2 linked regions of the Homo sapiens genome follow. The protein of the gene in region 1 binds, or shares a complex with, the protein of each later gene. Each region holds a gene or a part of one and is shown in the gene's direction. Other genes may lie near its edges. The genes, in order: CHCHD3 and APOO.

What was found.
Region 2: CHCHD3 (region 1) and APOO share a complex: the UniProt entries of both Homo sapiens proteins name them as parts of the mitochondrial contact site and cristae organizing system (MICOS) complex.

The regions. Positions count from the first base shown.
Region 1 is NC_000007.14:132,971,779-132,984,281, reverse strand, and holds part of CHCHD3 (MICOS complex subunit MIC19), read left to right. Parts: intron 1-8,995; coding exon 8,996-9,113; intron 9,114-10,257; coding exon of another isoform or gene 10,258-10,305; exon of another isoform or gene 10,306-10,854; intron 10,855-12,503. UniProt on the Homo sapiens protein: Component of the MICOS complex, a large protein complex of the mitochondrial inner membrane that plays crucial roles in the maintenance of crista junctions, inner membrane architecture, and formation of contact sites to the outer membrane.
Region 2 is NC_000023.11:23,853,940-23,866,442, reverse strand, and holds part of APOO (MICOS complex subunit MIC26 precursor), read left to right. Parts: intron 1-7,709; coding exon 7,710-7,801; intron 7,802-10,060; coding exon 10,061-10,141; intron 10,142-12,503. UniProt on the Homo sapiens protein: Component of the MICOS complex, a large protein complex of the mitochondrial inner membrane that plays crucial roles in the maintenance of crista junctions, inner membrane architecture, and formation of contact sites to the outer membrane.

The DNA.
Region 1 (12,503 bases):
ACCAGCCCGGCCAACACAGCGAAACCCCGTCTCCACCAAAAAAATACGAAAACCAGTCAGGCGTGGCGCCGTGCGCCTGCAATCGCAGGCACTCGGCAGGCTGAGGCAGGAGAATCAGGCAGGGAGGTTGCAGTGAGCCGAGATGGCAGCAGTACAGTCCAGCTTTGGCTCGGCATCAGGGGGAGACCGTGGAAAGAGAGGGAGAGGGAGACCGTGGGGAGAGGGAGACCATGGGGAGAGGGAGACCGTGGGGAGAGGGAGACCGTGGGGAGAGGGAGACCGTGGGGAGAGGGAGAGGAGGGAGAGGGAGAGGAGGAGCCTTTCCGAGAAGTTGTATTTTCAATACAAGATTAAAAGGTATTTCTCAAAACATGCAGGGGTTTTGGACCTGCTGGCATAGCTGCATTGAAGGCTTCGTGAATTTTCTTTTCTTTTTCTACAACAGTCCTTATGCTGGATTCACTTATCTCAAAGTGGCAGGAAACTGCAGCTGCAGACCTCAATCTATGGTACTTACCAAGCAATTCAACTTTTTTTTCCTCTAATGTCATGACTTTTCTCTGCTTCTCGGGAGCACTTCTAGCATCACTAGTGACACTTTGTATGGGTCCCATGATGTGATGCAAAGTTATGGTATTGTAATAAACAATGAAAAATACACGAGAACCTCAAAAGATCACTTTTTACTGCAGTATGCAATTTACTGGAGAGACTAACTGCTCACTCGATGATTAGCATCACAGTGTGTTAAGCAGATACTCGTAACTCCTGAGCTCGCTACAATAGCAACAGGAGGTGCCTACTGAATTATAGCAATACAGTATGTACTATAGTTAATTTTATGCAGTTATGACTTAATACTGCATCTTTACCTCTGTTTACGTTTCCGTCCACTGCAGATGGTGCCATGTACAGTCTGTTTGTGTGCATACATTTTGATACATTTTAACTTTTTGTTTGAGATAGAGTCTCGGTCTGTCACCCAGGCTGGAGTGCAATGGCGTGATCTCAGCTCACTGCAACCTCTGCCTCCCGGGTTTAAGCAATTCTCCTTGCCTCAGCCTCCCGAGTAGCTGGGATTACAGGTGCTACCACCATGCCTGGCTAATTTTTTGTATTTTTAATGGAGATGGGGTTTCGCCATGTTGGCTAGGCTGGTCTCGAACTCCTGACCTCAGGTAATCCACCCGTCTTGCCTCCCAAAGTGCTGGGATTACAGGCATGAGCTGCCGCGCCTGGCCAATTTTAACTTTTTAATAATAGATTCGTATATATTTTATGATAGTGAATGATAAAACTGACCAGAATCAACATATTTTATGCATTCATGACATACTTTAAAAATTTATTTATATTTATAGATATGTGATTCATCTGTGAGTTTTATCAAATTGCTACAAGTCTTCAAAAAAATGTTCAATATATTTATTGAAAAAAAAATGCACATATGTGGTTCTACACAGTCCAAACGTGTGTTATTGAAGGTTCAGCTGTACTTAAAAGTTCTGTAGGCCTCAATTTTACATAATTTCTCTGTGCCTCAGCTTTTCATCCGAAATATAATTGATTTAATAGGGTTGTTGTGAGGATTAAATGAGTTACACCCATCAAATGCTTACAGTTGTACCTGGTACGAGTAAGCATAATAAATGCTAACTCTTTTTCTGTCACACATGCAGATATTATATATGAATTTAGGCTGGGTGTGGTGGCTTTCGCCTGTAATCCTAGCACTCTGGGAGGCTGAGGTGGGTGGATCACCTGAGGTCAGGAGTTCAAGACCAGCCTGGCCAACATGGTGAAACCTTGTCTTTACTAAAAATACAAAAATTAGCCAGGCATGGTGGCACATGCCTGTAATCCCAGCTACTTGGGAGACTGAGGCAGGAGAATCGCTTGAATCCCGGAGGTGGAGGTTCCAGTGAGCCAAGATCACACCACTGCACTCTAGCCTGGGAGACAGAGTGAGACTCCGTCTCAAAAAAAAGAAAAATTAAGATGCCATATTCATGTTTATGTATTTATTTTGGAATCTCAATCCACATATATTTTCTTCCAGGATTTGAAACGATTTGAGCTGAGAAGTGTTAAGCTTCTCTGTTCCCTTATTTTTGTCAAGTCTTATTAATCAAAAACTGTATACGTGTTTTGTCCTTATTTTTAATAGTCTAATAATTACTTCATTGAATTACCCAGCTTAGCTCTTCTGTTTAAAAATGGATGGTAAACAGTATCTTGAATGCTGGTTCGGCAGGTTCTGACAAAATATGATGCGTTAAAATAAAATTCATTGTTAGCATTAAAATGACCTTTGAGGTTGTCGTCACTCATTTTTCTCTTTCAGTGTTTGAAATAGCCTTTCTGCATCAAGTGCATTGCAGTATCTTGTATATATTGCCTATGTATAACGGTCACGGTTCAACTTTAGATAAGTCATTTAGTCAAATCACTTTATCTCTAGCAATCTCCGTTTCCCATTTATTCTTACCCATTATCTGAAGTTCTTATCAACTTTCTCTCCATAGTGTAATGGCCTTATGTATTACATTTATAAAGTAATTTTCTAAGCTAGAATTGTATAGAATTACTTATGTGTCAACCTACATGAAGATAAATCTGAGTATTTGTGAATGGCCAAATGAGCAGTATCCAAATTCAGAAAAACATTTAGGGCCATTAAAAGCCAAACCACTTTGGGAAAGGGGTGGTAATAATTTAGACTCTGGCAAACTCTGACTTAGTGTAGTATACACAAATTTTAAAAGAGCCTATTTTAAAATAACCGTGAATAATGTAAGATTTAAAAACTGTCCTTACATGACCACAAAGGTGAGTAGTATAATGGAAACTAATTCCTATAGGAAAGTTTACTCTTTAAGATGTTTAAGAAGTATGACTTTGGAAGTCAGATCACCATCTTTCACACCTCTGTTGTACTTCTCAGTTTTTCTCATGTTAAAAATGGAGATAGTAGCTGGTGTGGTGACTTGTGCTTGTAATCTCAGCACTTTGGGAGGCTGAGGTGGACAGATCACTTGAGCCCAGTTCAAGACCACTTGAGCCCAGTTCAAGACCATGTGGACAACATGCTGAAACCTCGTCTCCACAAAAAAAAAAACAACCCAAAAATCAGCCAGGCTTGGTGGCATGCAACTGTGGTCCCAACTGCTTGGGAGGCTAAGGCAAGAGGATTGCTTGAGCCTGGGAGGCAGAGGTTGCAGTGAGCCGAGATCATGCCACTGCACTCCAGCCTGGGCAAGAGAGCAAGACCATGTTTCAAAAAAACAAAAAACAAAAAAACTAGAGCTAGTAATGCCTCCCTTATGGAGGTGAATGAAGTTCAATATGTTAATGCCTTGCTAAAGTTATCTTTAAAATTCTCTTTCTACTTTCTTAAAAACTTGAGGTTCTTTAGAGTAAAGTCAAACTGGCTAGTTTTTACCCTGGGACTAAAATATAGAGAACTAGATTTTATACCTGCTGTCCATGAAAGTTGAATGTTTTATAAGTAGTTAATTTGTTTTCCCATTTAAAAGGACATGTAATAATATTTATTATAGGAGATTTGGCTGGCTTTTAGGAATTCATTTTGCTGGTGTACCTTAAGTCCCTCGCCTGATTGACAATATACTGAGGAAAGAGCTAAGTTGCTAGGGCTTGAGGTCTAAGGGCAGCACTGACTGGTATTTGTTTCATTAAGCTTAGGCAAGCTATCCAATTACTTAATGCAAACAAGAAAAGTTTACACTAAACTCCTACTTCTTTGCTTGAAACTCTAGAGAATTTAAATGAGGAGAGATATGTATTTAAAAGAAAGAAATTTAAATGAAACTTAAATCAGGGACTTAATGTAGAATATATTAGAGCAGGAGATCTAAAATATTAAGTGGGAAATGCCAATAAATAAAAAAGGAATGTATTCTCTAAGATACTTGGCATGTTTAGTTTTGTTTTGAGATAATTCTTAAATCTTTGGAAACCCAAGTTAATAATGAGAGACTTATTTTATCTCCTGCCTTTACATATAAAGTCCTGCCTTCCCTTGGTCAGTGAGAGCCTGGGTCTTCTCTCCTTAGTGAAGTGTTCCCAAAACAACATGGCTTCTGATTTTATAGCTCCACTATCTGGGCAGTAGTTTTCAGAGAGGCCCAGATGGCAGGGCTGTCTTATTTGGTTCAAAAAGAGAAAAATTGGTTGACAGCTCATCTACCTTTTGCAGATGGCTGTTGAATAGTATAGCTCCATGCGGTATAAAACCAAGGGGCCAGAGAGGAAGCTTTGAAAGTAATTGGGGGTTTCTGAAAACATAAGCAGTTTTTCTTTGCAAAGTGGTTTTGGCTCAGTAAAGAATTTACAGGAACCATTGAAAGAGGAAACTTAGAAGAAAATAATTGCCATGCAATATTTTGGAGGGGAGGGTTGGGGAAATGGAGAATGGTACAATTTTGAAGTTTCAAATCTATTGCTTTTAAATGGGAAATGGTACAACTTAGAAGCTTCTCATCTTTGGGCACTGGTCAAAACTGAACCTCAGTCAGTATACCATTGAAACTCTGTCCTCCAAGAGAATCTGAAAGCAAGTAAAATTCTTTGCAGAGGTGATTTCATGCCTCAGAGACCCTTCTAAGTGTCACAGGAATCTAACTGAAGGAAATCCTTTCTTGGTGCTTCTGGACCCAACTGATGTTTCCTCTGCCTAAGACACTTTCTCCTTCCCCATGTTGCTCAGTTAATGTCCTGTAGAGCTCAAGTTAAATATCAGTCCCACCCATGCAGTGTCATAGATACCTACCTAACTTTTTAAAAATAATGCATCTGTTATTTGTAATCATGGCTCATGAAAGTAGGGACTGTGTCTCTTGCTCACTACTTCATTCTCAGTAACCAGAGTAGTCCCTTTCACCTAGTAATTATATACTGAATAAATTTATGAATTCCAGTGTGTAGTTTTTGTTGAGTACTGTAGTGAGAAATCTCAGGATTACAGTAGAAGTATATGTGCCCATCGAGTAGAAATTATAACAGTATCAAGCTGGGAGATAATATAATGCCCCTCTGTTTTATTTATCCCCTGCCACCACCTTTTTCAAGATTTTTTATGGAATGAGGAATAATATGTTTAAGGTATAGACTTTTTAGAATGTTTATATGCAAAGGACCATAAGATTATATAGTAGTTCAACCTTCAAATTTTAAAACTGAGGAAACTGAGGCTTATTAGATTGTACAGCTAAGTTGTTGATAGGAAATGAGAATTTGTTCAGAGTCCTACTGCCAAACTCCCTGATGACAAAAAATTTGGTTTCTTAAACAGTCACCATACAGACCTTAAAAAAAGTTTTTTTAAAATTTATAAACATTCCTTTAAAAACATTTGAGAATTTGTGCAGTTCTATTTGTAAGGATGAATGAAAGTATAAGAATTTATTAAGAAAGGAAAATAATATTCTTTTTAGTCAGTTTGCACCACTGCCAATCCTCTTTCAATCCAGGTGTCAAATATAGTTAGGTGTTGATGTTGGAGGGGCTCTGGACTGTTGTGGCACCTCCTGTTGTAGGCTATTTAATGTAGCCTGGGATTATATCACAGATGTGCCACATCTAACATGGTGGCTAAGCCCTTGGAGGATACAGTTTGTCTCGTTAGTTGTTTCTTATATACCATCGCCTTGTGTTCTTTTGCAGTTTGTTTTCCTTGTTTTGTTTGTGGTTAGAAATATGCCATTTATTTATTTATTCATTCATTCATTCACACATGCATACATCAACAACTTTTTCTTGCGTGTTTGATATGTGGCAGGCACTTTTATAAGTATGGGGGATATAGCAGTGAACAAAAATAGGGCAAATCGTTGTCCTTATGGAGCTATGGACAAGAGGGAAAGGAAGCAGCTTGTGAAAGGGTCTAGCTGCTGGAGTTAGTAGAGTCAATTTGTGATTTTAGAAGTCCTTAGAGATCATAAAAATAAAGCAGAATTTATTGGTGAAAAATTGGAAAAGATGATGGAGATGGCATTGTAGTTAGTGAATTTGGAGATTGTCTTCTTCATTTCGTAAAATCACTGCTTTCTCTGTATTCCTACCCGCATAGTGGGTACTATTATTATTACTGCTACTTACCTAACATTTATTGAGTGTATATTATGTTATGGGCATTGTGCTGAGTGCCTTGTTTATATAGAACGCTGTAAGGTAGGTATTACACTATTTCATTTTACCCATGAGAATAACAGGACTCACCGGAGATTAAATAAAGTACTTATTCAGATAGGAAGTTTAGAGCCTTGATTTGGACCCAGAGTTTGCATATCTGTACCAGTCATGGCAAGCTAAATATGTTTATTTTTATTATCACATTGAAGGCTTTTGTGCTCATGTTTTGCTTCTTTTTCATTAACTTGCCAAAATCCTTATGATCCTGTATTTCTTAAAGTTGAACCATGTAGAACTCCATATGTAATTAAAATCTAAGCCATACATAAGTAAACTAAAATGGAAAAAAAAAGTAGTAATTTTTAAACAGTACTTTAAAATTAGATACACCAAATGTGGTAGATGTGATAATTCAGTTGAACAGAATTCATTTTATGTTCATGAACTAATAATAGAATTTGAATAAACATTTTATATATGTTTGTAAAGTGCCTAGCACAGTGCTTAGTAGTTGATCCATAAATGATAGTAATTTTATTATTTTATTTTAGTTTCCACCTCACTGGTAAAAATAGGTAATGCTTTTTTACTTAGGGGTAAGATGTCCATACAAATGCGTTAAATACAGTATTGTAATCTGATATGATAACCTCAGCAGTTATTTGCACAATATTCTCATGGGGAGCACTTCATTTTTGATGTTACTTTCATTTACCTCCAGGATTTATTTGAGTACAAGTGTATTTTGGTAATTAAGGGCTGTAGTCTTAAACTTTAGCATGCATCAGAATTCTAGAGGGCTTATGAAAAGACAGTTTGCTAGGCACTATCCCTAGAGTTTCTGATTCAGCAAGTGTGGGATGGAATCAGAGAAGCTGCATTTCTAACAGACTCCCAGCTGATGCTACTGCAGCTGGTTTGTGGACTGTAGTTTTAGAACTGCTGTTCTAGGAAGTGGTGTGACTTCTAATTATTGCTGTTCTCTTACAATTACACATATCCAGTGGTGTTAATGTGTTGATATCATTGATGTTGCTGAATTTATTGTATGGTCCTTGTGAAATAATTTAGAGAAATTTGGTTTGTATGAGTGTCATTGTGCTTATTGCTTAGGAAGTTTCCCAAAGGTTACTTTTGCATTAGAGAATTTCGAAATACAGATTTTAACTTGTTTCTAGTCCTCTTTTTTTTTATTTAAGACACAAAACTACACAGCTTTGATTTTTAGGGGAAAAGGATGATAACTTTGGAATATATCTCACAAGGTGACTTTTTTTTTTCTGTTGTAGTTGATTTCTGAGAATTCCAGAGTATCAGGATGATGTAGCAATTTAAAAATAGTAACACAAAATTTTATCTCTAGTTTTTTTCAAAAATCTTTTTAAAACTAAAATTTGATAAGCTAGTACTGAGTAGAATTTGGTGCTCATCATTCACACGTATAAAGTAGATTTCACTCAGAATTTCACTTACACCAACATAACAATTTTACTTTTCCTTTTTAAAGCATAGCTATACCTTCAGGGATATGATGGTATAGTAGGGTTATTCTCTCAAAGAAGAAAAGGCAGTCAGAAAATCTTTGTTCATGAGATTAGACTGAAATCTTCAGTGATTCAGTGATTACTGAATGCCTCTATGTGCCAGGCACTATGGCAAAAATCAGTGCCAAAGTAATTTATCTTTATCATGTACAATGAGGGGTTTTAGTGGGTTGTAACTTAATATGATCTAATTGTGTGATGAGGCTACTGAGAAATCTAATGCAATCTTATGCTTCATTAATAGAATTAGTATTGTGTACAGATCTAGGGAAGTAAGATTCTCCTGTCTTAGTTTGCTAGAGCATGTCTGGAGGGTTAGGTTTAGTTTGGAGCTAACAGATCGATTGGAGTCATTCCAGAAGTGAGGAGCCCTGCAGTTGAAAGGCGTGGTCATATTTGCATATGAGGATTGTTGGAAAATAGGGGTAATATACTGGGAGGAAAGATGTCCTTATTAGTTCCATAATGTCTGGCTTCTCTGCTGTGCTGTAACATCCACAATGACAGTGACCTGTCCATCTTGTTTATCGCTGTGTCCTCAATGCCTAGCACAGTGCCTGGTGTGCATTCAGTAAATGGACGAGTTGAGTAAGTTTGGAGAAAGAGACGATGGTTACCTTCAAATATTTGTCATGTAGATGGCTTTTTTTTTTTTTTTTAAACGGAGTCTCATTCGCCCAGGCTAGAATGCAGTGGCATGATCTCAGCTCACTGCGTCCTCTACCTCCCAGGCTCAAGCAGTTCTCCTGCCTCAGCCTCCCAGGTAGCTGGGATTACAGGAATGTATCACCACGCCCAGCGAAGTTTTGTATTTTTAGTAGAGACGGGGTTTCACCATGTTGGCCAGGCTGGTCTTGAACTCCTGACCTCAAGTGGTCCACTTGCCTTGGTCTCCCAAAGTGCTGGGATTACAGGTGTGAGCTGCCACCACGCCTGGCCTAGATGGTTTGTTAATTACTTAAATTTTCAGAGGCCAAATGGAAGCACCAGGGATGGAATTTTTTTGGTGGGCAGATTTTAATTTTACATAAGAAGAACTTTGTAAAACTTAGTTATATTTGGCAGCCAAATTAATAAGCTTCTTCATGTATTTGAATTTGGTTATTTGAAATGCTTGAGTGGAGGCTGCATGGGGATTTACCTCTATACCTGCTTTTTTGATAGATTATGGGCCAAGATGATTTCAGCTGTTGACCTTTTTGGCTATGTGTTTCTATTTTTAAATTATTTCATTTGATAGAAAATAATGTCAACTAATAAAATATTTTTTCTAACTTAGACAATTCTTGTCATTTTAGACTAAAGCAAGCCAAAGAGCTGGACCGAGAGAGGGCTGCTGCCAATGAGCAGTTAACCAGAGCCATCCTTCGGGAGAGGATATGTAGCGAGGAGGAACGCGCTAAGGCAAAGCACCTGGTGAGTATTAAAAATGTAGGAGAAATTTTCTTGCCTACAAGGAAATCTCTGATGTTTGGGAAGAGCTAAGTACTCTGTGCCAGCTTTTAGTGTTGATAATATTATTCATGTTCTCTTTGCTCAGATTTTGATTTTTGCCTTTTATAAGTAGCTTACAGTTTAGGTTTAACCATCAAGGACTTTAAAGGCAGGTAACTCTGGAAGTATTGAAGACCAACATGCAGACATGTGTACATGTTTCACACCTGAAGGATTGTTGTCTGCTTTTTTTTCTTTTTCTTTCCTTTTTTTTTTTGAGACGGAGTCTTGCTCTGTCGCCTAGGCTAGAGTGCAGTGGTGCGATCTCAGCTCACTGCAACCTCCGCCTCCGGGGTTCAAGTGATTCTCCAGCCTCAGCCTCCCGAGTAGCTGAGATTATAGGCACCTGCCATCGTGCCCAGCTAATTTTTGTATTTATAGTAGAGACGGGGTTTCACTATCTTGGCCAGGCTGGTCTTGAACTCCTGACCATGTGATCCACCCGCCTCGGCTTCCCAAACTGCTGGGATTACAGGTGTGAGCCACCGAGCCCGGCCTGTCTTCTTTTTTTGTCCTTTGCCTTTGGTTTTATTGTCTTTGAAACCTCAGGGGTCAGCAATGTAGGCTTCTTTCTCTCGTGGCTGGCAACTACCAGATGTTAGTCTGGAAGACTCTGGCAAAGGTGAGTAAGGTTTGATCAATCACTGCCTGGGGTTTAGGGAAGAGAAAATGTAGAGCCAGGGCCTTGGGGAACAGTCTTTTCTAAGATAATTTTTTTAAAAAGAAAATATTTTTTAATCTTTTAAAAGATTACATAGACATGTTTTTGTTGTTGTCTTTAAAAGTATTACTAACAGACAGAAGAAGGTTTAAAAGACACCCATCAATCTGTCTTTCTGATATAACCATGGTTTACACCAGTGTGTGTTTTCCTCGAGATTATTTTTTTCTAGGCTTTTTAACATATTGAAACATTTAGATAATGCTATAGATGGTGTTAAGCCTCATGAACATTTTCCTATGTCACTGAACATTTTTCTGAAATGTAGTTTTTAATGGCTGAATAATGTTCTGCCTTTTGTATTCAACATAATTTATTAAGCAATTTCTTATTGTTATTTGATAGATAAAAGTGGAGCTGCTCTGGGTGAAACCTGGAGTGTTGACTGCTTAGCCTCCACTTCGGCCTTCCTAGAAACCCAGATGTTACTCCTCGGAACCTTTAGTCCTCATTGGAGCACAGTTGGGAACTCACTGGACAGGGAAAATGGGACCATGGAATGGAGAACTTTGAACTGAAGAGTGAGGGGGATTTTCCTAGTTCACTAGGCAATTGGGAAACACTAAAACTTTCTAAGAAGAAGGCTCATTTCTAGTCTCTCCCATTCTTTACCTTAGTCACTTCTCTGAAAGACCAACCCATGACCAGCTGCAAACAGAGAACATGAAAGGAAGTCCATGCGTAATGAATCAGTTTCTTCAGTGACAAATCTGGGGTCCCGGTTGCATGGGCAAATAGTGAAGCCAGAATAGAGGTGGTAGACCAAGAAAGAAATGTCAGTGGACTGACTGGCAGCTGCCCTAAGAACAGTACATGTGTTGAGTGGAACAAAGGGAATAAGAGAGGTGGAAGCAAAGTCAGTCATTGTGAAAGGGGAATAATTTCAGAATTAAAGACAGTAAGTTTTGAGTAACTCAACTGAAAATTAAATTTGTTGTACGTCTAAGCTGAAGGATTTTTTGAGGAAGCTGAAAAAATATCAGGTCAGTGGGTTGAAAAGTCATTTCTATGTATATTAAAGTCTCCAAATTTGGAAGCTAAGGATGTAGTGGAGGAGGTTAATAGTGCTCATGTTTGAGGAAGGTACGAGAGCAAAACTCTTAGTTTCCAGCGGGCAGAAGAATACCTTGGTTGGCATTTCTCTTTGCCTCCCAGCTTTTACTCTTTTGAATCTTATCTTTGAAGCACTCTTTCTCCACCTCTTTTTGCCTGAATTTGGACATACTGTCTTACTCTCTTAGTTTATGGAGACCAGCAAGATTCAAAAACTCAAAAAACTCATTAAATATATACACACACTCAGCAAGACATAAAAAGAGATTTCACAAAAAAATGTGAAAGTATCAAAAGATTTGTTACTCAACATAACTAAAATATTAAGCAACATGTTTTGATTGGAATAGCATATCTGCAGTCTGTTCTGTTTTACCTAATAAATCTTGTCTATTGTCTGTCTTTACTGCTTTGTGTAGCTGGTGAAGCATGAGAAACTGGCCTCGTACATTCTGATTTGTAGATCTCTTATTTACAGATTCTGGTTGTGTGGTATAGATGACAAATTGTAGTACTCACAACTCCTGTATTTCAGCATCTGTTGTAATATTTGCCAAATAGAGCCCTCAAAGCACTTAGGGAATAAAAGTGGAATTTATGCCATAGGATGACAGCTGATTGAGAGAGTCCCTTCCTTCCCAGAGTGTTGTCAGACATTTGCATGGTCTGCCATGGCCACAGCAACATGGCTGCCAGTGACATTTAGTTATTGGGCAGTTCCCAATTTATTTACCAGATTTCTCCCTTTATTGTTGTTATTTATTATTATGGAAGACATACATATTCATTGGATCAAGATTAGAAAATAAATACAAAGGGATACTAAAATCACTCAATGTACTACAATTCAGAGATAGTTACTGTTAACATTTTGGTTTGTTGTGTTTATATTCCTTTTTACTTCCCACTGAGTTGGTATAAAACATTTGATTTTATGTGTATAACGGTATTTCTCCAAACATAGATAATAGTATACACTCTTTTGTATAACTGTTACAATAACCTTCACATTAAAACATTTAGGCCATGTGGTAAAAGTTTTTATACTGATAAATACGTTTTTGTGTGGTCACATTTTAATGGTTGTGTTTCACTGAGTTTTCCACTAATTACTAAATTAATACAAGAATATTATAGAACACTTGGAAAACAAAAAATTACAAAGAAAATCAGTATTGTTATAATTCTGTCATCTATCATTAATGTTTAGAGGTATAAAGTTCTTTCTCCCTTCCCCATATGTATATATTTTATACATGCTTTAGGGTCTCAGATTATGTATCCCACCACCCTCCAAACCAGTACTGTGCGGTGTGGACAGTGATCGCAAGCCTGCTGTTGTTTGTTAGTTCCTTGATCCCCAGCTGGAGAGGTGGGCATCTTCAGAACCCATAATTGATGTGGGAGTCACCCCAGAAAGGTTAGCATTGCTCCTGCTATTTTGGAGGGCCCCTATTGCTGCCATTCTTAATTCTAATATGTGGGACTCTTTGAGTAATGGCCAAGCATTGCTTCGTTCCTCTTTATTTAGAACTCAA
Region 2 (12,503 bases), on another chromosome or scaffold:
GGCACTACCAGCTCACCTGTGGAAGCAACTCATGTCACAGTCTTTGTGCCCTCCTCCCATCTCATGCAGAATATGTCAGAATTAAATTTCCAGCTTATTTTTGTAATCAACTTATGAACCAACATTTTTCCCTAAACTTCTTTCACCTCATTTCTTGCAAAGCTGTTCAGAAGAGCATTCGGTCTTATTTAGATAGCGTTTGAGATTGATGAACATCCCAAGGCCAGGGTGTTGGGATTTCAGCTATCGTTAGGGAGATAGGAATGTAGAAGTGAGTGAGAGGAGCTTCCCCCTCCCTCTCCTGGTTAGAGCATGTGGGAAAATCTTCCAGGTCCAAAGAAAGCACTTTTTCTGTGCTGTGGGTACGTTCCTACAGTGCCGAGAGCTTGTCCCTGGAACATCCACTAGGATGACCATCCTAAGGAGGATTGGAGATGGTGCTCTCCTGGCCAGAGCAGCAGCATGAGGACATCTGCTACAGTGGGTCCTAGTCCTCTGATTTTGTTTGTTCGTTCTGTCTCTTTTCTTCCTTTTCCTGGGGAGAGCTTGGTAGTATTAAAATAATTTGACACCTTAATTCTTTTTCACAAATATTCACACAGGCACGCACACACACATGTGCAATAGCAGGTCTTTTCTCCTGAGCGTTGGGTATAGAAAGACCTGAGGTGAGCAGCATCAGAGGGGTTCACCAAGCAAGATGAGTGGGGTGATAGGGATGTCTGTGGGTAGCCAGAATGGTTTGCAGGCCCCTCCAGGTGAATGGGCCCCTTTGAGGGCAGCAGCAGGGTGGGTGGGTGCAGAAGGTCCCTCCTGATAGGAGTTTCTTTTTTTTTTTTTTGAGACAGTCTTGCTCTGTTGCCGAGACTGGAGTGCAGTGGCGCCATCTCAGCCTCACTGCAACCCTGCCTCCTGGGTTCGGGTGATTCTCCTGCCTCAGCCTCCCGAGTAGCTGGGACTACAGGCGTGCACCACCATGCCCAGCTCATTTTTGTATTTTTAGTAGACACGAGGTTTCACCATGTTGACCAGGCTTGTCTCGAACTCCTGACCTCAAGTGATCCTCCCACCTCAGCCTCCCAAAGTGCTGGGATCATAGTTGTGAGCCACTGTGCCTGGCCTGGTGGGGTTTCTTGAGCGTATCTGCTAAGGTAGTCTGCTTCAGTTGTTGAGGATTGCCACAACTGTGGTGGTGACAAGAGGCTCTCAGAGAGGTGAATGGATGTCCATTCAGAGGAAGTGGGCCCAGCCAGACCACTCCAAGATGACACGTGGTTGTTGACACTATTGTTGCCTTCTGGTGGCTCTCCCCAGCATTGGCCACCAGTGGTTCCCCCCGCCCCTGGCAGTGCTGATAGTGACAACCTGTACCACTGGCCTCTTGGGAGATAGGGCATGGAGGTGGGGGCAGGGGAGTATGATTACACCTCCTTCCTGAAGTTCTTGGGTCTCTGGCTCATTGTGTGAACCAGCAGGAGCTGGAGGCCCGAGAGCTGCCACTTCTCGGCTCTCCCTGGAGGAGTGAGAAATGACTGGGTGGCAGGTTGGCTGCTCTTTCCCTGGTCCTCACTTGGGTGAGCTGCTTCAAGTGGATGGGGGCAGGGGAGGGGCCATATGCAGGGATATCACAGGCTTTTCTCTTCTAGGATAATTATACCCTTTCAATTCATGCAACAGGATCAGGAGAGAAACAGTAAATCATTAATAGTCTAGGTTGATAACATTTGTATTCTCTTCAGCAGTCCCAGTTCCATCGTTGGGGATTTCTCTGTTTAAAGTTTTAAAGCCAATAAACAGTACTTATGTGATTAGAACCGTTTAAGGATTAATGTACACATTCTGTCGGGGTACAGTGGCTCACACCTGTAATCCCAGCACTTCAGAAGTTCAAGGCGGATGTATCACCTGAGGTCAGGAGTTCAAGACTAGCCTAGCCAACATGGTGAAACCCGTCTCTACTAAAAATACAAACATTAGCCAGGCGTGGTGGCGGGTGCCTGTAATCCCAGCTACTTGGGAGGCGAAAGCAGGAGAATCACTTGAACCCGGGAGGCAGAGGTTGCAGCAAGCCGAGATCGCACCACTGCACTCCAGCCTGAGCAACAGAGCGAGACCCCATCTCAAAACAAACAAACAAACAAACAAATCAGCCGGGTATGGTGGCTAACACCTGTAATCCCAGCACTTTGGGAGGCTGAGGTGGGTGGATCACCTGAGGTCAGGAGTTCGAGACCAGACTGACCAACATAGTGAAACCCTGTCTCTACTAAAAATACAAAATTATTTGGGCATGGTGGCGCATACCTGTAATCCCAGATTCTTGGGAGGCTGAGGCAGGAGAATCACTTGAACCCAAGAGGTGGAGATTGCAGTGAGCCGAGATTGCACCATTGCACTCCAGCCTGGGCAGCAAGAGCAAAACTCCATCTCAAAAAAAAAAAAAAAAATCAATAACACACACATTCTGCTAGCATCTATATGGGTCCCACAGCAAAAAACACTATGCCTCTCAGTGGAGTCAAGGCCATGTGTATTCTCTAGTTTCATCCTCTACTGGTTTTTTTAACCTCATTCTCAGGTTTCTCCAGGCTCTGTGTCCTGCTGTCTCTTCTGTCCATTTCCCTTGCTCCACAGCTCTATATCCTCCTACAATCTGGCCTGAGACTTCAACACAGTTCTTGTTTTGGGACTGGTCTTCTTCACACTTTCTTGGGTTTAAGCCCCCTTTTCCTGGGTTCCATGTCATCTTCTCCTTGGTTTACTCTGCCGTGCTGTTGAACTACATGCTTAAGTCACTTTCAAAAAAGCGTATGTTGGAGGTAAACTTCCCAAGACCTTCCATGTCTGAAAATCACTTTCTGCCCTCATACCATGTGACAGTTTGGTTGGGCACTGAATTTTGTTTGCCATCAAAACTTTCAAAGCCATGTATTCTAGCATCTGGCGTTGTAGATGTGAGAGTCAGTAGCCATTCTGGATATTTGCTGCTTCTGAACAGGTGATACATTTTTTTTTTCTTCCTGGAAGCTTTGAAGATCTTCTGTGAATCTTTAGTGTTCTGAATTTCTTTGGTGCTGTGACTAGATAGAAGTCTTTTCTTTTTTTTTGAGACGGAGTCTCACTCTGTCACCCAGGCTGGAGTGCAGTGTCACAATCTCCGCTCACTGCAACCTCCTCCACCTCTGGGTTCAAGTGATTCTCACGCCTCAACCTCCCAGTTAGCTGGGATTACAGGCGTGCACCACCACGCCTGGCTAATTTTTGTGGTTTTAGTAGAGATGGGGTTTCACCATGTTGGCCAGGCTGGTCTTGAACTCCTGACCTCCAGTGATCCACCCGCCTCAGCCTCCCAAAGTGCTGGGATTACAGGCATGAGCCACCATGCCCAGCCTTGGATATAGTGTTTTCATTCTTGCCCAAACAATATGGCGGCTTGCAGCATCCAGCTGAAGGAAAATATCTTCTTTTCCTCCCTCCCTCCCTCCTTCTCCCTTCCCTGCCCTCCCCTCCCTCTCTCCCCTTCCCTCCTTCTCCCTCCCCTTCCCTCCTCCCTCCCCTTCCATCCCCTGCATCCCTCCCTCCCCTCCCTCCTTCTCCCTTCCCTTCCCTCCTTCTTCCTTCCCTTCTCGTCCCGTCCCTTTCTCTTCTCTTCTCTTCTCTTTTCTTTCTGAGAGATGATCTCACTCTGTCACCCAGGTTGTAGTGCAGTGGCATGATCAGGGCTCACTGCAGTCTTGACCTCCTCAGGCTCAAGCAATCCTCCCATCTCAGCCTCCTGAGTAGCTGCGACTATAGGCATGCACCACCACACCTGACTAATTTTTTTTTTTGTGGAGACCGGGTGTCACCATGTTGCCCAGGCTGGTCTCAAACTCCCGAGCTCAAGCAGTCTTCCTTCTTCAGCCTCCCAAAGCGCTAGGATTATAGGCATGAGCCACTGCGCCCAGCCTATCTTGTGTATCTTTGAAAATTTACTCTCATTCTTTTTCCTTCCTCAACGCATTAATTAGCAATTGAGTTATTTAAAAGGACCCTATGTGTCTCTTATATTTTCTTGATTATTTTATTTTGTTCCTTTTGAATTTTTTTTGCTTTGGTCATTTCCAAGAGCTCCTTCCTGTTCTTTGAATGTTCTTTTTTTCATAGAATTATTTTTTTCTTTTAATGTAGTGGCTTTTAAAATTTATTTGATGATACTTAGTAATAGGTTTAGTTTTGTTTTGAAGTTCTTCTGTTTCCTTTGTGCTTGTCTTGGTCTTTCTCCTTTATGTTTCAGGCTTTCCACAAATGACTGGTGATTCTTGGTTATCCAGTCATGTTTCAAAGTGAGGCAGCTGAAATGCTAATAAGAACTCTTTCACCTGTAATCCCAGCACTTTGGGAGGCTGAGGCAGGCGGATCACCTGAGGTCAGGAGTTCAAGACCAGCCTGGCCAACATGGGAAAACCCCATCTCTACTAAAAATACAAAAAATAGCCGGGTGTGGTGGAGGGTGTCTGTAATCCTAGCTACTCAGGAGGCTGAGGCTAGAGAATCACTTGAACCCAGGAGGCAGAGGTTGCAGTGAGCTGAGATCACGCCACTGCACTCCAACCTGAGCAACAGAGCAAGACTCCGTCTCGGGAAAAAAAAAAAAAAAAAAAAAAGAACTCCCTGTCTGTACATGGGGCCCACTGACGGGCAGGTTCTACCTCAGGGGAGCTGGGCAGGAAGTGACCATATACAAGGGTGCACCCAGGGCCAGTGTGAGGAGGGCTTTTCTCTCAGGCACTGACATACTCACCCCTTCCAGCTCTCTTGGTTCTCAGCAGGAAATCCATGGTGTTTCTTTAGTGATACCCTGCCCCCACTGTTTTAACTCTTTTTTTTTTTTTTTTTTTTTTGAGACAGGATCTTGCTTTATCACCCAATGTGTTAGGCCATTCTTGCATTGCTATAACCTAACACTGGGTAATTTATAAAGAAAAGAGGTTTAGTTGGCTCACAGTTCTGCAGGCTGTACAGGAAGCATGGCACCAGCATCTCCTCGGCTTCTGGTGAGGCCTTGGGCTGCTTGCAATCATGGTGGAAGGCAAAGGGGGAGCTGGTGTCTCACATGGCAAGAGTGCGAGCAAGAGAAAGAGGTGGGGGAGGTGTCACACATTTTTAAACAACCAGATCTCAAGAGAACTCACTGTTGCACAAGGACAGCACCAAGGGAATGGTGTTAAACCATCTGTGAGAAATCCACCTTCATGATCAGGTCACGTCCCACCAGGCCCCACCTCCAACATTGGGGATTACAATTTAACATGAGATTCAGAGAGAACAACATCCAAATTATCACCCAGGCTGGAGTGCAGTGGCATAGACACAGCTCACAGTAGCCTTGAACTCCTGGGCTCAAGCAATCCTCCAGCCTCAGCCTCCTGAGTAGCTAGGACCACAGGCACATGCCACCACACCTTACTAATTTTTTAATTTTTTGTAGAGATGTGGTCTCCCTAAGTTGCCCAGGCTGGTCTCAAACTCCTGGGCTCAATCAGTCCTCCCACCTCAGCCTCCCAAAGTGCTGGGATTACAGGTGTGAGCCACTGCATCAGGCTCATTTTTTTTTTTTTTTTAAAGGAATAGAGATGGGGGGCTGGGCGTACTGGCTCATGCCTGTGATCCCAGCACTTTGGGAGGCTGAGGCAGGTGGATTGCTTGAGCTCAGGAGTTCAAGACCAACCTGGGCAACATGAGGAAACCCCGTGTCTACAAAAACTACAGAAAAAAAAAAAATTAGCCAGGCATGATGGCTTGCACCTCTTGTCCCACCTACTTGAGGGGCTGAGGCAGGAAGATAGTTTGAACCTGGGAGGTCGAGGCTGCAGTGAGCCATGATTGTGCCACTGCACTCCAGCCTGGGAGACCGAGTGAGGCCCTCTCTCAACAGAAAAAAAAGAAATGGAGATGGAGTCTCGCTATGTTACTCCAGCTGGTCTCAATTCCTGGCCTCAAGCAATCCTTATGCCTCGACCTCCCCAAGTGCTAGGATTACAGGTGTGAGCCACCACACCCAGTAACCCTGGTTTACTGGGTTTTTTAACATTTTGAACTGGTGTGACTTCCTGGCCAGGGGTAGTTTTGTACTGGGATGGCATAGGGGAAGGAAAGGCCATGCTGGTCCATGCATCGGACTTGCGTTTGTCCTGTGCCCTTGTCTTGCTCCCTGGTTGCCATCTCCACTCCCCATGGTACCTGCCATCTCTGGATCTGGAATCTCCCTGGGGCTGCCTGGGACAGATCTGCTCCCTCTGAGGCTGCACTCCTCCTCAAGATTTCAAGATTTCAAGGCAGTGTGTCCTCTTATTTCCGTTCACTCTCCATTTTCTGAAAATTGATTGACACTTCCTTTCTGCCAGTGGCCCTTCCACACATTTTCTCTTCATTGTGGGTTTATTAATGTTTTTTCTTACTGTTTTTTTAACGGGGTTGCAGAAAGGGGAGAAGAAGAACGCTTGTGTTTAGTATTTATATAGGAAGCCAGATTGCTATAAAAGAACATAAACCCTAGAAACCAAAATACTCATTTGTTTATTTTTAAAATAATCTTTTTTTCTGCTCTCTTAGGGAAAAAAAGGTGTTCTTTTGAAAACACTTGGTGCTGAGTGAAAGAAGCCAGTCACAAAGGACCGTATATTTACTGCATGATTCCATTTATATGAAATACCCAGAGGGCCGGGCGCAGCGGCTTACACCTGTAATCCCAGCACTTTGGGAGGCCGTGGCGGGTGGATCACCTGAGGTCAGGAGTTCGAGACCAGCCTGGCCAGCATGGCGAAACCCCATGCCTACTAAAAATACAAAATTAGCCGGGCATGGTGGCGTGTGCCTGTAACCCCAGCTACTCGAGAGGCTGAGGCAAGAGAATTGCCTGAACCCGAGAGGCAGAGGTTGCAGTGAGCCAAGATTGCGCCATTGCACTCCAGCCTGGGTGACAAGAGCAAAACTCTGTCTCAAAAAAAAAAAAAAGAAATATCCAGAGTAGGCAAACACATAGAGATAGAAAGTAGATCAATGGTTGCCTAGGGCTGGACGGTACGGGGGAGTTGAGGAATGACTGCTAATGGGTTTCTTTTAGTGATTATGAAAAAGCTCTAAAGTTAATTGTAATGATGGTTACACACCTCTGTCAATATACTAAAAGCCATTGAACTGTACTTTAAATGGGTGAATATGAATTTTATCTCAATAAAGCAGTGCAAAAGCGTTTTGGTGCACATGACTTTATTTGGCACATTCTTTCAGTTTAGGACCAAAGAAATCTTATTCAGTGGTGGGGTTATTTTGGTTTTGTTGTTTGGGTTTCTTAAGAGACACGGTCTTGCTCTGTCACCCAGGCTGGAGTTTAGAGGTGTGATCATAGCTCATTGTAACCTCGAACTCCTGGGATCAAGGAATCCTCCCACCTCAGCCTCCCAAGTAGCTAGGACTATAGGCACACACTACCACGCCTGGCTAATTTTTTTATTTTAATCTTTGTAGAGACAGGATCTGACTATGTTGCCCAGGCTGGTGTCAAACTCCTGGCCTCAAGTGATCCTCCCGCCTCGGCCTCCCAGAGCTTTTGGATTATAGGCGTGAGCCACTGTGCCTGGCCTTGTTCCGTATTAAATGGATAAGGTAAATTGTGATGGTGAGGATAATGAATCATCTGATGGCGTGTACAACCTTTTATTTATCAGGTTCAAAAATAAAGAAGCTAGTGTATCCGCCTGGTTTCATGGGATTAGCTGCCTCCCTCTATTATCCACAACAAGCCATCGTGTTTGCCCAGGTAAGAGAAACTCTGTAATCCATGATGTCCCTCATTCTTGTTTGTGTGTGTATGAATCTGATGCTTAATTTTATTTTATTTTGCAGTTCTTATAACACCAGACTAAAATTTGTTTGTACATATAGATGAATACAGAAAATTTAAATGATTTTCTCCACTATATGCCTCAGTTCTGGCCCTTCTTCCAGTAATGCCAGTGTTCACAGAATTTGAACACGAATTTGCGTGATTGTTTGAATGTTCATCAGCAAAAATTTAATATACATTTTTTGTATACTTACATGGAAGTCTAGAGACTCAAATTCCAAAGCTGATAATTATGGGTCACTCAGTTTATGCATGTCCGGTCACAACCTGCTCTCGTTGGTATTGTAGACCCAGACTACTCTGACTTCCACTCCTCCCTAGTACTGGTGCCCTTGCTTTCCTTGCTGGGGACTTTGGGGACTGTAATCCCCTCTGCTTGGAGTGCCCTTTTCGGGGCTTTCAGTTGGCTGCTCCTTTCTTATCCTTGAAGCCTCAGTCTTATGGTACCCTGGCAAGCAGGTCTATCACGGTGGCAGGCAACATGGATAAAGCTGTACCACCGATTCTTAAAATGTGTTACCAGACCAGAAGCAGCAGCATCACCTGAGAACTTGTTAGAAATGCAAACTCTCAGGCCCCACCCCAGACTGACTGAATCAGAAGCTCTGGGAGTAAGGGCCAGCAGTCTGTGTTTTAGCAAGCCCTCCGGTGGTTTGTTATTAATGCCTATGGTGTTTGAGAACCACTGATGGAGACCAGTAGGTAGCCTGAAAAGGGTGATATCTGGAGTGAGTGGGACTCTAGAGATGGTGTCCCTCAGGAACTGGTAAGAACAAGACAGGCTCTAGGTTTTGAGGTCCTGGGCAGATTGTGGACACAGGGACTTTAGCTGCTGGAACTACCACATCACATGGAAACTCAGTTCCAGGAGCAGACAGCAGTGCAGTCACCCAAATTGGACTCTGAGCCAGACTGACCTGAGACTGAGCTTCCTTGGTTGTTCATGACAGTATTGAATCCAGATTCCTTGATTGGGCTACAGTTGTATGTGAGAGTCCAGTGGCCCCAGCTTGGGGAGCTTGATGGCTTTGATGACAAATACCAGTACTTTCCAGCATTTGCTCAACATTGTTTGTAACAGTCCTGGAGGCAGATAGTTAATGCTTCTGTCCCTGCTCCAGCCCCAGGTCAGGAACAGTGAGTAACATCTTCCAGCCCTAGATATAAAAATAATTAAACATTATTTCAGCCTGTTATGGTTTAAGCAGTAAATAGCTAGAGTGGAGAGGGTGAACTTGGTTGCTCGTTGAGAAGCATATGTGGCTGTCCCCAGAGTAGGAGTCTTTTTTTTTTTTTTTTAAATTTCTTTCTTTTTTAACTTTTAGCGTTAGGTGTACATGTGCAGGTTTGTTATTGTAAATCGTGTGTCATGAGGGTTTGGTGTACAGATTATTTTGTTACCCGGGTAATAAGCCTAGTACCTGATGGGTAGTTTTTTGATCCTCGCCCTCTTCTCACCCTCCACCCTCAAGTAGGCCTCGGTCTCTGTTCCCTTCTTTGTGTCCATGTGTTGTCAAGGTTTAGTTCCCAATTACAAGTAAGAACATGTGGTATTTGGTTTTCTGTTCCTATGTTAGTTCACTTAAGATAATGGCCCCCAGCTCCATCCCTGTCCCTGCAAAGGACATGAGCTCATTCTTTTTGGCTGCATAGTATTCTGTGGTGTATAAGTACCACATTTTCTTTATCAAGTCTACCATTGGCTGGGCATGTTGGCCCACGCCTGTAATCCCAGCACTTTGGAAGGCCGAGGTAGGTGGATCACCTGAGGCCAGGAGTTCGAGACCAGCCTGACCAATGTGGTGAAACCCTGTCTCTACTAAATACAAAAAATTAGCTGGGTGTGGTGGCACATGCCTGTAATCCCAACTACTTGGGAGGCTGAGGCAAGAAAATTGCTTGAACCCAGGAGGCAGAGGTTGCAGTGAGCCAAGATTGCGCCATTCCACTCCAGCCTGGGCAACAAGAGCGAAAACTCCATCTCAAAAAAAAAAAAAAAATCTACCATTGATGGGCATTTAGGTTGATTCCATGTTTTGCTATTATGCATAGTGCTATGATGAACATATGCATGCATATATCTTTATAGTAAAATGATTTATATTCCATTATTATTCCCAATAATAGGGATTGCTGGGTCAGATGGTAAGATCTTTTCTATTTTGTTTTAAGGTCAGTGGGGAGAGATTATATGACTGGGGTTTACGAGGATATATAGTCATAGAAGATTTGTGGAAGGAGAACTTTCAAAAGGTGAGGAGCATCTTTTTCATTATCTTCCTTTTGGTTTAAATATGTGGTTTCTCTAGGGTTTTGTAAAATATTTGATAACCCTGTTGATTTATTGCTTTTTCTGTTTGCTTCTAGTTCTGTCTCCAGCTCAGATTTTTCAGGTGACCTTTCTTGGTAGAGCAGTAGAACTTCTGAGTATTTGGTTATTATCAGCAGGGCCAAATAAGTGGTGACCATAAAATGCAATGCATTCCACCGTAGTCTTAGACCATATTTTCCATTATATTGTATTCCTAGTTTCCTCTAAGTGTAGCGTATTATTTAAAAGTCTTATTGAAACTGAATTCAAAGGGAATGTACTATGCTCCCAGGAAAAAGACATAATTGAGAGCCTCTTCCTCTTGGTTTTTCACTTATCATGAGTTCTGTTCTTTCCTTAGCACTGCTGTTTCTGTTTATCCCCCAGGCTTCTCAGCTCAGCTGAGGGTGTGAGCCATCGTATGTTGGGGACTAGCTACCAGCTAAAGGCCACGTTCTCTGTGCTGTCTAGTACATGAGCAACAGAGGGAAGAAGTTGTGTAATTGTAAGAACTTGTCACCTTTCATCTCTTTTAGTGGCCACATAGCCGATTAAATGTTGCCTATGTTCGCTTGGAACATTCCCTTCCTCCCACTGATAAGGAAGAATGAGTAGAGAATAAGGTATCATGTCTCTACTAAGCACTCAGAGGCACAGCCAGCTAAGGAAGAATTAGACTTCTTATATTAATATACCTTCTACATCACAGATTGAAGGAAGTTCATTTTTCAATGAAAATACTTTTTAAAAAAAAATAAATAACTGAGCTTCAAATCATTGACAAGTTAAAAAAATACATATAAATAACTATCTCAGAATTAAAATCCAGAATTTTGAACTGGGATTTGGAAGTAACAGAATAAATTATAAGCCCTCTTTATTATTTACATAAATAATCTTCTAGTGAAATCTTAAGACTCATTTTTTGGCCAGGTGCAGTGACTCACGCCCAGCACATTGGGAGTCCAAGGTGGGAGGATCACTTGAGCTCAGGAGTTTGAGACCAGCCTAGGCAACATAGTGAGACCCTATCTCTCCAAAAAATAAAAAATTTAGCTGGGCATGGTGGCATACTTTGGGAGGCTGAGGTGGGAGGATTGCTTGAGCCCAGAAGGTAAGGGCTAAATAGAGTGAGCCATGATTGCGCCACTGCACTCCAGCTTGAGCAACACAGTGAGGCCCTGTCTCAAAAAAAAAAAAAAAGAAAAAAAGAAAAAAAACCCCACTAATTTTTATACTGGTGGTTTCTAAAGGAATTAGTCCTTCTCGAGCCTATTTAAACTAGCTCTTGAATAGGAAATTCTATACCAATATCAAGAGTCTTTTGGCAATCCCTGTTTTTTTGATTGTTTTTTGTTTTATTTCTCTGATATTTTCTATGGAAGCTTCCTTTCCTTTTTAAAAAATTCCTTAACAAATGCGGCCAGGTGCGGTGGCTCATGCCTGTAATCCCAGCACTTTGGGAGGCCGAGGCGGGTGGAGCACCTGAGGTCGGGAGTTCCAGACCAGCCTGGCCAACATGATGAAACCCTGTCTCTACTAAAAAAATACAAAAATTAGCTGGGCATGGTGATGCACGTCTGTAATCCCGGCTACTCAGGAGGCTGAGGCAGGAGAATTGCTTGAACCCAGGAGGCAGAGGTTGCAGTCAGCCAAGATTGCGCCACTGTACTCTAGCCTGGGCAACAGAGCGAGACTTCATCTCAAAAAAACAAAAACAAACAAGCAAAAAAACAAATGCACACTAAATTTTATATGGGAAAGGAAGTAAAATATCAAGAAATCTCTAAACAGCCCTAGACAGAAATGTGGAAAGTGAGACTAAAAGCCTCAACTGCGAGCCTTCATTGTGGTGTGACTGCAGACTGAAGCACACCAAAGCCAGAGGGAGTCCCCCAGGCTCCCCGGAGTGCTCACTGTGGTGTCTGTGCAGACACACACGCACACCAAAGCTAAAGTGAGGGCTGCGGGAGCCTCTGGCTTGGAAACAGCATTCTCTGACTGTGCTAAGAATTCAGCCCAGTGCAGAAGCAGCTGGACTGTGGTTAGGATACCAGTTAAGCAGGCCAACATTTTCTGGTCATTTGAAGACATTAGATATTAAAGCTACCCAAATTTATATGCAGATCTTTTTAGAGTGAGGTGGTAAAGATTTTTAATTAGCTCATGATTGGTTTGCATTTCTCTCTGTCTTTATACCCTTGCCTTCTTCAGAGTCATTGAGAACTTAAGGCTTTCTCCTGTTTGTTACTCTCCAAGGATAATTTTATTGACAGCTGTCTGTTCTCAATAGAAGGTAATAAA